Linked DNA regions of Homo sapiens: region 1 is linked to region 2. Evidence: fine-mapped expression QTL. Tissue or cell type: whole blood. Region 2 holds a variant in brackets; the other region holds the start of a gene. All regions are shown on one strand. Distances are between the middles of the regions.

Region 1 (8,320 bases), 190 kb after region 2:
GGTCATCCTTGCAATCCACTGGGGTCTAGTTTGGAATCTCACAACTGGAACAAAAAGAACCTTGGATCCAGTGCATGCCTTGGTTTTGGTGCTGCTCCTGCTTCTCAAGATCCTCAGCAGGGATTAAGAAAGAAATTGGGGTACACAGCAGATCCCTGAAATTGGCAGACTTGACCTCCTGGAAAAATTGCTGTGTTTTTCACTTTCTGTTCAGGACCACTACTAAATGCTGAAATGTGGATGCATACCAAACTAAAAGTGATTCGTTGTGTACTAAAGTTTTTTAAAATTATTTGTGTAAAATCATCTTTTGAAGCAGAATCAAGTCTGAAAAGCAACTGATGTTTCCATTAATCTTTTTCTGGGGAAAACCTCAGTTCTAAGGATTTAGCATCCTGTAAGTGAAGTTTAACATAACAGTATTCCATAAGCAGCCTTTTTATGGTCAGACCATTGCCTAATTTTAATATAATTTTAAAATGTGTGCATTAATTAAAAAATGGGAAAAGGATCTTAATAAACATTTCTCCAAAGAGGATATATAAATGGCCAATAAGCACATGAAAAAATACTCAACACTCTTAGTCTTCACAAAAAAATGTAAATCAAAACCACAAGACACCACTTCACATTCATTAGAGTGGCTGTATTTTTTTTAAAAGACAATAGCAAGGGCTGTTATATTGTTATTGTAACTAAAGGCACAGAGAAATTGAAACTCATATTGCTGGCAGATATGTAAAAACGGTACAGTTCCTTTGGAAATCAGTTTGACGGTTTTTGAAAATGTTAAACATAGAGTTAACATACGACCCCACAACTCCACTCCTAAAATACTAATTGAAAGCCTGTTCACACAAAGCTTGTACACAAATGTTTATAGTACCATTATTTAAATAGACAAAAGGTAGAAACAACCCAAATGTCCATGAACTGATGAATGGACAAACAAAAAGTGGTTCATACATTCATCAGTCAGTTGATGAATCATGTTTAATGCCTGTTGGTAACACAGAATTTAGAGCCACTTTGCTTCACTCTTTTCCCAGTCTTGTTATTTATTTCAATGGAAACAAAATGTTCCTGTAAAGATGCCTGGATTTTTGGATATAGAAAAAGTTGTGGGACTGAAAAAAATGAGTGGAACAGAGATTTGAGTATGTAGAAAATAATCTTTTTAAATATTTGAACCAAATGTTCTAAAATTAGCTTATGGTGACTGCATAACCCTGTGAATATAGTAAAACCATTGATTTGTGGACTTTAAATGGCCGAACTTTATGGTATGTAAATTATATTTCAACAAAGATGTTAACAAAATTTTTAAATGTTATATTTTGTTTAGTAAGAAGGTATTTTTTTCTGAGATGCAAAAACATCATAGTTATCTTAACTCTTCCCCTCAGATTTTGGTGGCAACTTTTCATGTACTGTAAATATCATCAAAAGCAACCCCAAATCAATGATTAGTACTAAAAAGAGACCTTTTGTATCAAACACTGTTCATCTGCTGTTGGCAGTGGAGTTCATTTTTAATGCTACATTGCCCTCTTTGCGTCCAGTGTACTTTAATTTGCTGTTGGCTGCTTCCCAAAATGACCATATTTCTACTGCCCCCCCATTAAAAAGAAGAAACATCACAAAATTATTTCTTCAACATGTTCATTTTATACATCAGAATGAAAGGAGGTTACAGGTCTCCCATAGATTAGGGCTATTTACCATATCTCCTTACTTATTAGAGTCACAAATCTTAGCAGGAAGCCAGTTATGCAGATTGAAACATGAACTTCTTAGTCTAGCATTTTAATACTTTTTAATGGTGAAATTTATCTAGACTTATCTATAAAGTCTTTTGCAATTTGTGGTATGCTGAGTAAGAACTACAGAAGAACAAAAATAAAAGATTTTTTTAATGGCAACTTAAAAAATTATCACCACTTGTACTACTTACAAATTTTCCTCCAAAAAGTTACTTTGACTCATAGTCAATTTTTAATCTTGGAACAACTTCTTGCTATCACAAATACTTCAAGTGCCTAAAACATCTTCCTTACCAGCCAATATCTCCCGCTCCACTCTAAGAAATGCAAACTCGTTCAAGTTTAACCTGAATGCAACATAATTTGGAATCTTTCATTAAAATATATATCACACATTTTGAAGCCAAACATATTTTAAAATACCTGTTTTTGGTGATTTGGGGTACATATGCTTATCAGTATAACATATTTTAAAAGATTTTTTTCTACATACTCAAATCTGTGTTCCATTCATTTTTTCACTCCCACACCTTTTTGTCTATCCGATAATTCAGGAATCTTTACAGAAACATCTTGTTTCCATTGAAATAAACAACAAGAGTAGGAAAAAGAGTGAAGCGAAATGGTTCTAAATTCTATGCACCAACAGGCATTAAACATGCATAAACTTTTAAAGAGATGCCAAGACTCACTAAAAAGGAGAAAAAAAATACAACGAAGGTTTCTGAGTAGTTTTTAGTTACTCAATTTAAAAACTTTATCTTGTAAGCAAACTTTAACATCATCCAGAGCATCGCACTTATATATGAAAGAAAAAGTTCTTTATCACACCTTCAGAAATTACAACTACAAATTCCTAATCCCTTATTTAAAATCTTTTTGGCTAGATATGTTTCAAAATTCAGAACTTTTCTTAGAATAGTACGTCTGCCATATATTATGAAACACTTCCAGCAAGCTGTACTGTAATCAAACACAATATTTCTGTAGAAAACTTATGAATATTTACACAAAGGGAACATTCAGTTACACATAGCCTCACTTCCCTTCAGGTCAAACTTTACTGCTAAAGGAGTTAGAAACGACAGACAAAGGAATGGGGCCTGTCATGACATGTTAATTTGAAATCTAAATCTTTATCTTTGATAACTAGTTCAGAGTCAGTGTAAACATTTGGTCTTTCCTTCCACAAAAAAATGAAACAGTGTATTTAAAATTAAAAATGAAACAGTATATTTTATTTCAGAAGGTAAAAGCAAAATGAATTAATCTGTGAAACTAAGTCAATCACATTATGATCTTCTAGAACTTGGGTAGCTCCACTCTGGTTAAAGATTCCATTTCTTGGCACAACAGTAAAAGACATCAGATAGGCCCGGGGGTAAGCATCCCTGGGGTATTCAAATAACTTGGGTAGCAATGAAGAGCTGCAGAAGAGCAAGGAGACCCGAGATGATGTAGTGTGCTGCGGCATACCTGAGTTGGGCAAACTCAGCCTCCGAAGATTAAAGGAAAGAGCCCAAGTAGGAATCTGTGTGATCACTGTTCTTTTGCCAAGACACGGGGTGGACAATAAGATTCCTTTACAAAGCACTGGTGTAAGTGTTCGCCTGGTGCTGCAAAAAGCGGCTCACTGGGAATGGGGAGGAGCGTGTGGTAAGCCAGACCTGCGGCGAGAAGTTGGGTGAAAATGGGTCTTAACCATCGCTTCCTGCATCTATCCCAGAGGGTTGGGTACCTTCGTGGGCGGAGCGCGGCCTGCCCAGAGTGCCTTCTAGATCCTGGGTCAGGCGCCAAGCTCCCCAGCATCATGCAGGAAGCTGCAGCCCCGCAGAGTTAGGACAGCTCATTTGGCACCCGGCGAGCCCTTCCCAGGCCCGCAGCCCAGAATAGAGCCGGGGCCCAAGACGCCCACTGGAGACAGGGTCGGGTCCCACTACCGCGCAGGCCCGGCTCGCCCCCGACGTCAGGCACGGGGCGGGACCCTTGCAGCTGTCCGTCCAGTCCCGTTCCCCGGAAAGTGAGGGGCGGGACCCTCGCGGCTTTCTATCCAATCCTGTTCCCCGGCGAATGCGGGGCGGGACCCTAGCGGCCTTCAGTCCAATTCCCGCACCTTTGAGGCCCAAGGGGGAGCGAGCCGGTGCTGCTGCAGGCTGAGGCTGCGGCAGAGGCGGCGAGGCGCGGGCGGTGAGGACGGACAGGTCCGTTGAAGCAGCATTCCCTCCCTCCCCTAATCCTTCAACTCGGGGGCGGGGGAAAGTTAAGTCGTGCAGAACCGCAAAGGTGCCTGGATTTGGTGGGGGAGTAGTGTCATCAAGCATCTCGCCTGCTGGGGTCTCAGGGGTACCCTCAAGGTTGGGCCGCGGGGCTGCTCCGTTGTAGTGCTTAGATTTCTCTCACTTGATGGCCTCTTGAGTGCAGAGTTGCTCTTGGGTTGGTGGGAAGAGCCTCCGAGCTCTCATTGCCCTCTGCTCCTGCTTCTACCCCTTGCCACTCTGCGACGAACCTGTTACCCAGCCACTGAAAACGTATCCTCTACCCTTTGAACCCGTCTAATGGAAGGTGTACTTGTCTGAAACCTACTTAATTGTATGATCATTTACTCCTGCTCTCTAGCAGGTGGACTATTTGCGTGTGTTTGCAGTGATTCACGAAAAGTTTGTCTTGGGAACTCCCAACTCCTAGTTTGTCTGCATTCCACCTTCTTTCACTAGCTTGTTCATTTCTTTTTCCCTCTTAAATATTTGTTAAGCTTGTTTCTTTCTTCCCACAGTCACCGACTTAGTCCAGTTCCCTGTGATCTCAAAACAATTGTTGCAGCAGGCTCCTGGCAGTCTCAAGCAGTTCATCTTCTTGGTGTACTGGTATGTGACAATTCCTTCACGTATTGTTCGTGGTTCTTTTCCACTTTCTGTGAATTCATATCTAATTGCCCCCAGAAAGTCAATTCTAATTAAATCTAGCATAATCATTTTCTTAGTGCTATTGGAACCATCTTATTTAACTTAATCTTTGTGGTTGAGAATTCAAGAAAACTCTTCAAGAAAGAATCCAATAATTTATATTTTTAATGTGTACCGGTTGGTGGGTTAAGCACTATAGTGGGTATGTAACTAATACTCTTGCTTCCAGTTTTCTAGAGTCTATTAAGTGGCACAGAGGTAAACAGAATAGCTTATCTTCTCTGTATGTGTGTACTAGTCTTCTATTGCTGCCTTAACCAATTACACAAATGCAACAATTAAAACAACACAAATGTATTATCTCATAGCTTCTGTAAATGTGAAGTTTGGGTGGGCTTAGCTGAGTACTTGGCTTAGAATTTCACAAAACCGAAACCAAGGTTTCTGTAGATTTGGATTCTTTTCTGGAGGCTCTAGGGGAGAATCCACCTCCAGGCTATTTCAGATTGTTGGTAGAATTCACACTGACATTTCTATATCCTTACTGTTTGTCAGCCTGAGCCTCTTTCAGTTCTTTAAGGCCATCTGCATCTTCAAAGACACCACAAATCCTTCTCAAGCATTAAAGCAGTCTTACTTGTCTGCCACTGGCCAGAGAAAGCTCTTTGCTCTTATGGACTCAAGTGATTAGATTAGTTCCAATTCGATAATATCCCTATTTTAAGGTCAGTTCTGTAGAGAATATCACAATCACAGGAGTAATGATCTCACCATATTCGCAGGTTCTGGGGATTAGCAGGGGTGGAATCTTGGGGGCCATTCATAGTAATTGTGCCTACCACAATATGGTGGTTTCAGGCAGGATTATTTTGTTTTTATAATGTGCTTTCACAGGCATTGAAAACAAATTCTGACTTTATTGAATTGTATGATTAACCACTCTAAGATAAGGAAATTCACTTAAAGTTGGTTGCCCTAGGGGCACATGGCTAGAAAGTGGCAGAGTCTGTACTTGGATCCAGATCTACATTTCCATTAGGTACAAACCCATTTTTATGGATGGTCAAAATGGTGTGCAGCCAAAGTCAATAGATAGAAAGAAGCTAAAGAACTTTGAGTTAATTATTATTTCTCATTTTCAAATTATCTCTTTATATTAGTGGTACAGGCTAAGCTCTTCTCCCTACAATAGAAAGCCCAAAATACAATGGTATGAATAAAATAGAAGTTTTTTTTTTTCCATACATCTAGAGGTAGGAGTCCAGGACTAGTAGGGAGATTCTGCAATCCTGCATATATGACTTCCATAAATGAGGCCATGGTGCTGTTTAGTTCGTCACTACCTAGCAGGTAGTAAAAAGGAGGGAAAGTGCAGGGAGAACACATGCATTCCTTTTTGGGAGCATGACCTGGAAGTGACACACACAAGGTCATCACAAAGCCACACTGAGCTCCAAGAGAGGGTAGGAAAGATAAAACTGGGGGCTGTATGCACAGCTACAACTCAGGATTCTGTTAAAGCAGAGGAAAACAGGTATTAGCTGAAAATAGTCTCTTCTGTGTCCATGTTTTTGATAGTGTTCGATTCTGTAACCTATGAGTGGAATACTTTGTTTAGCGTTGCTATCAGTTTTAAAAAATAGTTTTTGAGAGAATAGGAAGTTCAAATTCAATATTAACGTTCTTTGATTTCTCAGTTGCTATTTTAACATATAATTACATTTAATATATTACATTATTTAATATAATTAATATATGATAATTTACAAAGGCTTTGAGAAACCTCATTTTTTATTTAGCATTTGTATACCTTATTCACATTTTGAGTTAGATTTCTTTGATAGCAATTAATACACGTGTCAATATGTTCAAGATTGCTTTGGAACACTTGAGACCATTCTGTGTAGACCTCATACGACCTGTGCAATTAAAGCAGCTTGTCATATGATTTATGTATTCTATAATAATCTTTAATTCTACAGTTGGACACTTCCACACCTCTTTGTACTTTGTGCTCCAAAGTTTTCTATATCAATGCAATATCAACACATAATCCTTTTCTATACATCAAATACTATCTACCCACTAAGATTTACTGCAGGTTCCCTTACCTTCTATCATGTTGTTTTGTATAGGGGAAAGATTGTAGTCTTAACAGATCTGGGTTTGGGTCCTGTGTTTGACATTAGGTAAGTTACTAAATTTCTGAGTTTTGATATATTCATATGTAAAATTGCAAAGAATGCCACCTTTCAGAGATAACATAAAAGTTAGAGAGCTAACACATGTTTTCTGTAATGCAAACTGGAGTACCTGGCAAATGCTAGGTGTTCAATAAATGGTAACTAATTATACCAGTCCCACTGATCACTCTTTACTTCTAGCACTTTGTGTCTACACATTCTTTTTAAGTTGGTTTTCTCTATCTGACAGATTTATAAATTTCATAAAAGCTGGTACCAAGTCCTAGATATGCTGTGGTCCCTAAATACTGGTTTAGTGAATTGTGAATTGTACCTAGGATACGTAACACTATCTATGAGATTGAAGTTGTGAGGGCTCTCTCTCTTTTCTTTAGGTTTCCTATTGTGATTTTATCATGGAAAATCAATTGGCTAAATCAACTGAAGAACGAACATTTCAGTACCAGGATTCTCTTCCATCACTGCCTGTTCCTTCACTTGAAGAATCATTAAAAAAATACCTTGAATCAGGTATGTTAATAATCTTTTAGTATATATTAATATTATTAGTAACTTAGAAAACTGTGATACTGTTGCTGGAGAAGGGGTCTCGATCCAGACTCTAAGAGAGAGTTAGAGTTCTTGGATCTCTTGCAGGAAGGAATTCAAGGTGAGTTGCAGAGTGCAGTGAGAAGAGACAGTTTATTGAAAGCTTCTCCATTATAGAGTAGGACATCCTCAGAAAGCAAGCAGACTGTCTTTAAGTTTTTCTTACATAGGGGTCTTATCGATGTAAAGACTAAGCTGTGCCTATGTGAGGGTGAGCAGACAGCATGACAAAATTTATTATTCTGTTGATTTAAAGAAAACAATCCTTGACATTTTAGTGCATGAATACATCAAAGAATTATGTTAATCATCTCAAAAACATATATTGTTATGGGTATTGAGACATCTGGACTTTCTACTGTTGTAGGAGTGTGTCATTGTAAGTATCTTTAGGTTGTTTCCTCAACTGTAAATATCTTATGACTGGGTCATGACTGGCAAGGAACGTGCCTTGCTAGTCTCAAGATGGAGCTGAATTTAAAATGGTGTTACTCTGGCTCTCCTGAGCTCCTGCTTCCCCAACATTTCCCCCTCTACTTATGAGAGAACCCTTAACCTTAAGGGGAGATAAAGGGTGAAGGTTGTTCTTTTGTAACTCCTTCCTGGAGGCAGTAGATGTTGATGGTTGGGACAGGGTCTTCTCATAATAGTGTGCAGTGAGCCTCTTCAGGGAGTAAGGGAGCTCCTTGCTTGCATGATATCCCAATTGTTTCTAGAAAGTTAATATACTAGGTTAGTAAATAGAAAGGTGAAACAGCTGCTAAACTATTTTATCTTGCAACCCTATACAATAAACACAACAGAAATAAAAGCACAATAACTAATAACAATGAATATTATAATACCAAGCATACTGAAAAGA
Region 2 (8,320 bases):
AGTTTAATATACGTAAAACATTTACCTGTCACATACGCACTCAAAGAATGCTGGCTCACATTACAGAACCCAAAGGCTTATTTATCCTTTTCGTTTATAAGGGTATTAAAACGCGTTTTCTATTTAGGATGGGTTTATACGGCTGCAACCCAAGGAGCATCTGTACTTTTAAGAGGAACTGGGCACAGCAAAACAGCATCTTCCTAGTCTAACAGTGAGACTACATTCACAGAGGACACATTTCATCAAGAACGACTTAACACGCCCAGATATCTCATATTATGCCCCTGCGGTAAGGCAAATCAAGTATGAAGACACACACTCCCTGTTTTCTTCAGCACTGAGATCACTGGTTCCCTCCGTTCCACACCGCGGCTCCCTCGGCTCGGAGCCACAGGGAACTATGAAAATCGGCACGCGAGGCCTAAGTGTCCCCAGAACCAGAGGAACCACAGTTGCGTCATAGCAGAAGGACCTCTTTTACAGCATCAGCAGTGGGATAGTCAGTGCCGAGTTTTCCTGGCAGGACAGCCGACAACCACCGCCACAGACCAGTACAAACATTCCAACCCAGGACCTTTTTTCGCGCGCCGACACAGCCGGAAGTGACGCGTACAGCCAGCACGCTGGGCCGCCAGCGGGACAGACGAGCGGGAGGGGCAGCGTGCGGGGAGCTGGGGGCGGGGCGCGGCCGCAGCTCCGTTTCCGGTGGCTCGTCGCGCTCGCTCACTCCAGCTGCAGCCACTCTCGCCCGTGGCTGCTTCCTCCATCCTGGTATTTTTTGGAGCTTCCATCCTGGTTCTTCCAAAGTGCCCGGACCCAAAACAGGAAGTAAGTGCGATGGAACCTTCAGGTTCCAACCGCCGCCAGGGCCGCTCCGCCCAGTGGAGCCTGTCCGGCCCCCTTGCTGCCCGCTAGCTCCCGCCGGCTGGCGCAAGCTGTCGGCGCCGGGGCACTGCGGGCGGGGTCGGAGCCTGGCCTTCCTGACGTTGCAGCTGCCGTCCCCGCACGTTCCGGCCAGGGCCTCCCTCTTAGGGCCGGGCGGTGCCCGTGGCTCAGGCTGCAGAGTAGGGAAGCGAGCGGCTGCCGAGGCACAGCGGCGATCCGGCGGGGGCGGAAAATGGCGGCGGCTTCGGAGGAGCTAAATGGCGCCGGGACCCCTGGGGGGTGGGGTGGGCCGGGAGGTTGAGTAGAGAACTGGGCCAGAAGGAGTGGAGACAGTAAGGAAGCCCTACTTGTTTTCTCGTGGTGTTCTATTTTTAGTTTTTATTTTTGTTACGTTTTCGGTTTTGTTTTATGGTCCAGCGTAGGAGAGGTAGGCTTGGGTGGGGTCGAGAGAGTGGGGGTGGGTCTCGACCCAACTTCCCCCCCTTTGCTTTTTTGTTCTTTTCCCTCGTTTGCGCTTTAGATTCTTCTGTAATTTTGCGGGGGTTCAGCCTTGCTCGGCGATTCACGGCCCAGACATAGAGAATCGGGATAGCTGGCCGAACCGTCTCTCTCAGTCTGACTCTCTTTAAAGAAGGGATGTGGGCTGGGGCGCGGGGACAGTCCTGGTGGAGCACGGAAAATGCGGCTGTAAAGTTGTAATTACCCTATTGTGCCGAGTTCCGAGAAAGTTCTTAAAATTGTTAAGTCCACTTTGTTCTCTAAAATGTACTTCGCTTTGAGAATTTCTTCAGGGAGGTATGTAGAATGTTTTACCACAATCTCCAGAGCAGATTTGAGAGTAGAAGTGGCCAAGTGCCCTTTTGTGCAATTGAATGATAGAGCATATGTCTTTATATAAAATACTCGGTGTAGATAAGGAAAAGGATAATAGTATACAGTATGAGTCAGGACTCCTCCCTTTCTCTCATTGAATTTGTGTAGTTGCTTTTTTCGCAACTCATTCATCTTTGTGTACCTCTTTTTAATGTACATGGATTTGATTATGTGTGCCTCCTTTCTGACAGTCGAGGCTGCATGTTGGGACGTCCTACAAAATGCATATTCTGTGGAATTATTTTTTAATATGACATGTCTTAAGCTTAAAGTGACGCCATTTGGAAAATTTTAAATTATACCTGTATTTTTAATTCGTGGGAGAAAACCATTTGTAGCTTTTAAGCTCCAAATACGAAAATATTCTTCCACTATGTTGAAAGTATTGCAAAATCTGTTTTTTTCAGTTAAGGGTTTTCATGTTTTTTCATTACTTCAAATTTCTTTAAGCTGGTTTTGAAATTATATTTCAAATAGCTTTCTGAGGATTACTGTCTTTTAATAACTTGAATAATTTGCCATCACTTTAACATTTAAAGAATGACTATGGCGATACACCAAAATCTTATCTTTTTGCTCTTATGGTGTACTTAGAGACAGGATTTCATGTATTTGGTTAGGATTTAGAAATTCTGTTAAGATTTAGAGAAAAAAGGTTAAAGCTACATTCCTTAACGTTACAAAAATTGTCATGCTGAGAGAATCCAATTTGGTGTGAGAATAATTTTTTTCTTCCATACAGAAAGCACAAAAACCAGCCTGATTGTATCTGGAAAAAACCATTATGTTACAGGTGTGAAAAATACATTTCATGATTGTGGTGATTTTTATCTCATTTTAACTCTCGATACTAGGTGCTTCTGTATGCCACCAAACAAGCTAATTTTTTTTCTTACTATTTTAGTTGATAGGCTCACCCCAAAATATGCTTTTGGGGACTGATTTAGCACCTGCATATTCTGCGTGAATCTCTTTAATTGGTTGCAGTTGAGCTAATGGTGGAGCCAAAATGCTATTGCCCTGTCTTCATCAACATTTAATCAGTAAGTACTGGGCATTGCATCTTTCTTAGAACTTTAAGTTCATACGTTGCAGTTATATGAATACATTATTTTATGTAAACATTTTTCTGAGTGTTCAGGTTTTAGAAGTATTTTGAGGGGAAGAAATCAAAGTTTGGGCGTTATGACTTGAGCTTTGAAAACAGCATGGTTGGGAAATGTTTACTGGTGGAGACTCATATCAAAAGTAGATAGCTGTCCTCTAGTCCTTTTTTTAGAGATCTCTTTTTTCAATCCTTTAGTTATCTCATTACACCCCAGGGGTGCTTTAAAGGTGGGGAGATAGTGTATGTATTTTATAAGGTTAGTTTGATATCACTGGTTAGTATTTAAATAACAACAAAAAACTTGCCTTTACCTCCTCCGCAAAAAATCTTACCTTTCTATTAGCCTCATTTATCTCTCCAAAATCTACAGACTCTAATTTTTATTAATGGTGTAATAAACTTACATGTCCTGAAAATAACATCTCATTATTTTAAACAGTTGCCTTTGCCATGCTTCATTAAGTGCATTGGCTTAAATTAACACCTGTGAGGATGAATGGGATAATGTGAAACAAGTATTCCTAAGGATTTACTGCCTGGCACATAGATGTTAAAATATTGAGGGAGCTTAGAAGTGTTTTTGAAAGTATTGACGTCTTGCATCACTTGTATTAAACACACATCTGTCTGTTGCAAAGACATCAAAAGCTTAGAAAGGAACAAAGTTTAAGGAGGGTTCATTCTACTTTTTTTTATATCTTATGTAGAGACTGCATATTTAACACTGAGGTGGTGTTCTGCCTTTCCAAAATGGAGTTTTCCATTTTAATAGTCCATTTTTTTTCTTACCACCATCATATTTTTCCTATATGAAAGGATTTCCTAGGAATTGATATACTTTTAAATGCTTTGCAATTGCAGCTCCTTTATGTCTCCAAATGATACAAGAAGACCCGAGAAAGTGGTAAACTAAATGATTTTTATTAAAGTAATTGCCAAATATTAAAGATAAAATATGGATAGTTACCAAATGTATGTGGCGTTTGTTTACTTTCATGTCATTTCTCCGTTTATCTTGATGGTGCTTTCATTTTGTGAAGAAAATTCCTGTAATAGAAATCACAAATAGATTTTGTGTTTGCTTTGATTCTATAAAGGTAGATAAGTTTAAATAAAAGGAGGAACGTGGTTGTGTCTCCCCCACCCCACCCCCGCCCCACCCAAGTTTGTAGAAAGATAATCCATTCCATGACTGAGTACTAGAAATAAGTTGTCAGAGAAAAGCACACTGGAGAGCTCATTATGAACAGTTTAATTTTCTATCATTTCATATATTTAAATGTCATTTTGATTATGTACACTGTTAGGTCATTCTTCCAAGCACCAGTGGTCAAAGCTGATTCATTCACTTCCCATCAGGTGTTACGTATCAGAAATGCTCATTAGGTTTATTTTAGTGCCGGTGTATATTTTAGTATCTAATGAGTAAATGTGCTTTAAAAATTAACTTCACTGTAAATCACAGGTGTCTGGTGATACTGTATATGTCCATGTAAAGAGCCTCTGATGGTGCCTTGTAGAAAAGTACTCAGTTTTGAAAGGATGAAATCTTTCAAGTGTGGCGAATAACACATTGTAAGCTCCTGAACCATGCATGAAGTGAAAAATAACATTTTTGCTTTTTGAATAAGCAATATAGTTTTATTGTCAAACCAGATATGAAATGCTGCACCTTAAAATCCTTGCTATTAAGTAATCCTCCTTACTCAAGTAATAGTGACATTGTTTTCAATAGTTGGTAATTGAAATCAACAAAGCCTGCTAGAATAGACTCCACTAACAGCTCTGTTGACATTTTTATGATATATAATCATATTTTACCATCTTAAAACCAAGCCATAGTAAACATTAATTAGGTACCTTAATTGAATATGCCTTATGTTCATTTATGGCTCTGCTGCTCAAACTTTTCCACAAAGTATATAGAGGAACAAATCCCACGGGGCCTGGCACCATAGTCCAAAACATTCTTCTTCAAGTGTGTAGTGTTCCTATTCGTATCTTGAATAAAGTTTGTGCTTATGAAGATGTT[A/G]TGCTTATTCTATGACCTTACCTCTTGTCTGACAGCCCTCTGTGTACCCATGTTTAGGATGTATGAATTTGTTACCTATTATCTTCCACTAAGATTTTCTACTAAGCAGACTTTCATTATTTCAAAATAAACATATCTTAAAATTTATCTTCCAAATTCCTTAGACGTTACTAAGCAAATTCTCTTTTAAGTAGTTTTTAAAGCATTAGTTATACAATGATAGAGTAATAGTCCATTTGGAGTTTTATAATAACATAGCTACAAAAATGTTGAGTAATAGGTACGAATTAGATAAATTTAGATCTATGTGCTCATTCAAAATGTAAAGTAGTAATGATACTGGAAAATGCTCCTGATACAGTAAGTACAAAAAAGTGTGACAGTATGATCTTGTGAAAACAGTAAAAGATAGGCATGCTGATAACATGGGTAGAAGACTTGCAAATCACATAGAAAGAACATGAATGATTTTTCTTATACTGTATTGGGTCAGGAGAAAAAAACATCTGAAAACTGTCCTTACTGCCTTATTAGTTGATCTATGCCAGAGACTGTTTCTCAGCCTGTGTTTCTCAGTCTTTAACTCACCTAACAAAATTGTGGTGCTATATGTTCTGTAGCTTGCAAGATTTCACAGTATAAAGTGAGTGTATTAAAATAGGGAATGTTTTATATCATGTGGTCTCATCCCATGTTCCATTTTAGAATCACAGCTCCAAGCCTCTAGGGTCAGCAAATGTTGGTTCCTGTGCTGCTCATGATTGCCACTAATAGCATCTAAACTCTTTCATACTTGTATCAGTACTGTAGTTGGAAATGAGTATACAGCTGTTTACAGAATTAGCCCCCAAAACTGGGAAGAAAGGTGACTTTATTCCTTGATTCTGGTTTTTAGAAGATATTCAACACTTAAATGCCCAGAAAAATCAGGACGATAGGTAGACTCAATTGATGGAAATACCAGTCTAAGATAACCCATTGGATAAGAACTTTACATCAATACTGAAAGGAAGAATAGCATGAATAACTCATTTCTTTAATTGAATTCTGTGTTAAATAACAGATCCAAGAGTTATTTCTTTATGCTTATCCCTTTTCGTTCTTCCAGGCTATAGTATATTAAATAGGTTCATCTTTTTCATTGGGAGCTATAAGGTTATATTATAATGAAGACACAATAACTCCATTATAAGAGTTTTGTACCACACTTAAGGTTATGTGTTTTTTTTTTTAAGCCACCAGAATGGTTTTATTTTTGTCATTGACAACATGTACAAACCTGCAATTGTATAATTGTTTTGTTTGGTTTTTAAAATACTAAGTACACATTAAAAGTATGTTTTAAGAAATATGATGCATTAAAGAAGTTCACTGTAAACATAATTCTCAATGTATTTTCCTGCCTTGTTTCATGCATAAATAACAATCTAAGTAGTCATAAATAAAACTATCAACTTTTGTGGCCCAGAAGTATATACAAATTTTGAAGTTTGGCAGAAGGTGTTCTGTATGGTTTTATAAATTAAAACGCACAGCATTTGTATTGATTATTAATGAAATGACTTATCCCAAGTCCTTATTGTATCCCAACCTGTTCTGTCAATAATAAACGTTCCAATGTACTTGGTAAAGATGCCACATGTTTAAAAACTCAATGATTAAAATAATTCTAAAAGGTAATTTAAATAGTACTCAGTCTTATTAAAACCACTTCAGCTTGTCTGAAAAAATGCTTCTAAGGAGTGAATTCTGTACCATTATTTAAATGGCATCTAACAAAATCTAAAATTTAAGGAATAAATCAAATACATTTTAGTCTTGCAAAAAAACTTCATTGAGATTGTTACAGGAACAGAATGCTATCCTAAGTTTTCTAAAATTTATTCTTGAGTCATCAATGAGTTAAAACTTTAAGAGTTATAATAATTTTAGAAAGCCATAATTCTTGATGCAGAACATGATTAGTTTTTAATGACCAGAAATTATTTCTTCAGAAAGCATTAAATAACTGTTGAAACGTACCACCTATCTAGTGATTTATCAAGTAATCACTCAAGATTTATTAAGTACACATTTAAATTTTAGGTAATAAAAGTCAACTGGAATTTTGTACATTTCACTGTATTTCATTTTATACTTTTTTTAGGTCTTCATTTATAGGGTATAAAACTTAGAAAACATTCTTAACCAGTGTCTTCCTTAGAGTTAAATGATTCAAACAACAAGTAATGCTAAGCTAAATGCTGTCGTTAATACTGAAACCTAAGTTTCTAAAAGTTGTATTTTTCAATCAATACAAAAATGATCTGGCTCACTGTAAACTGCCTAACTTTAAAAAACTATTATTTGTTAAACAGCAGATTACAAGAAATGTTTCCCCTGTTCTTTTAAAAAACAAGATTATGAGATACATAATCTAAATAAAAATTTACAGATGGTGGTTGAAATCCTGTCAACTTTCAGCCCAGTGTAACAAATTCCATAGTTATGCATGAATAATTCAAAATTAAAGTTTTTAATGGAAATGTCAGTAAGGCATATAACTACATTTGTCAGGCACATGATAAGACTAGAAAATTAAAGCTATCAAAGCTATAAATAAGGAGTGCATAAATAACAGCAATGCCAAAACATTAGGGCTGTTAAAATTTAAACACATCTGATAGTTCTTTCTGTAAGCCACTCTCCACTGATAAAGCTATGGATAAAACTTAATTCCTTGCACAGCTTTCTAATAACTGATGATAAAGCTGAATTCCTTGTTCATAAAGCTGTACACCAATAGAATTTTCACATCTATTCAAAATTCTTGAAATCTCAAGCAGATCGTCCATGGTTTTCCTAACTGCATTTGGATTTGCTGCTACCCTCAGGTATTTTTTTCTTTAACGTGCTAAGGTATTGTGCTATTTAAAGATACACAGCAAATGATGAAAACATGCAAAAATGCCACTTCAGTTAAAATGGCTGTTAAAATTGTGTTTATTTTTCTTCTGTATCTTCTCGTTTTTAGTGTAAAAATAGTACATATGGTATAACCCATTACAAAGAAGGAAAATTGAGCTGATGTGCAGTCATGTGTTGCTTAATGACAGAGTTCTGAGAAATGCAGTTTGGGTGATTGCATGTGAGCATCATAGAAAATACACAGACCTGTACAGCGTGTTACTGTACTGAGTACAATGTTAACACAATGGCAAGTATTTGTGTATCTAAACATATCTAAATATAGAAAAGGTACAGTAAAAATATAGTGGTATAATCTTTCAGGCTTACCATATATGCACATTTGATTGTTGACCAAAATGTTACGTGTTACATGACTGTCTTTATTTTGCTCCAAAAAGGACCAAAAAAGTGATAGCAGAGTTGGCGATTTTCCTGTTTTCCAGATAAACCAAATGGGGAGGGATTCCAAA

Evidence for each region. PIP is the estimated chance that this variant, and not a neighbour inherited with it, causes the effect.
Region 1: it holds the start of TP53TG1, and the variant in region 2 is fine-mapped to the expression of TP53TG1 in whole blood (TOPMed, PIP 0.93).

The regions. Positions count from the first base shown.
Region 1 is chr7:87,341,804-87,350,123 of GRCh38, forward strand. It overlaps TP53TG1 (TP53 target 1), which reads right to left and starts at 3,689. Exons shown (of 3, transcript NR_015381.1): 1 at 3,240-3,689. It overlaps CROT (carnitine O-octanoyltransferase), which reads left to right and starts at 3,861. Exons shown (of 18, transcript NM_021151.4): 1 at 3,861-3,964; 2 at 4,537-4,627; 3 at 7,245-7,380. The coding sequence starts at 7,266. RefSeq lists an enhancer at 1-39 and a silencer at 3,677-3,886.
Region 2 is chr7:87,151,725-87,160,044 of GRCh38, forward strand. It overlaps DMTF1 (cyclin D binding myb like transcription factor 1), which reads left to right and starts at 729. Exons shown (of 18, transcript NM_001142327.2): 1 at 729-831. DMTF1-AS1 (DMTF1 antisense RNA 1) reads right to left here and starts at 769. Exons shown (of 2, transcript NR_136253.1): 1 at 578-769. RefSeq lists enhancers at 1-362, 278-517, 363-924 and a silencer at 4,140-4,269. The variant A/G (reference allele first, on the strand shown) is at 4,902.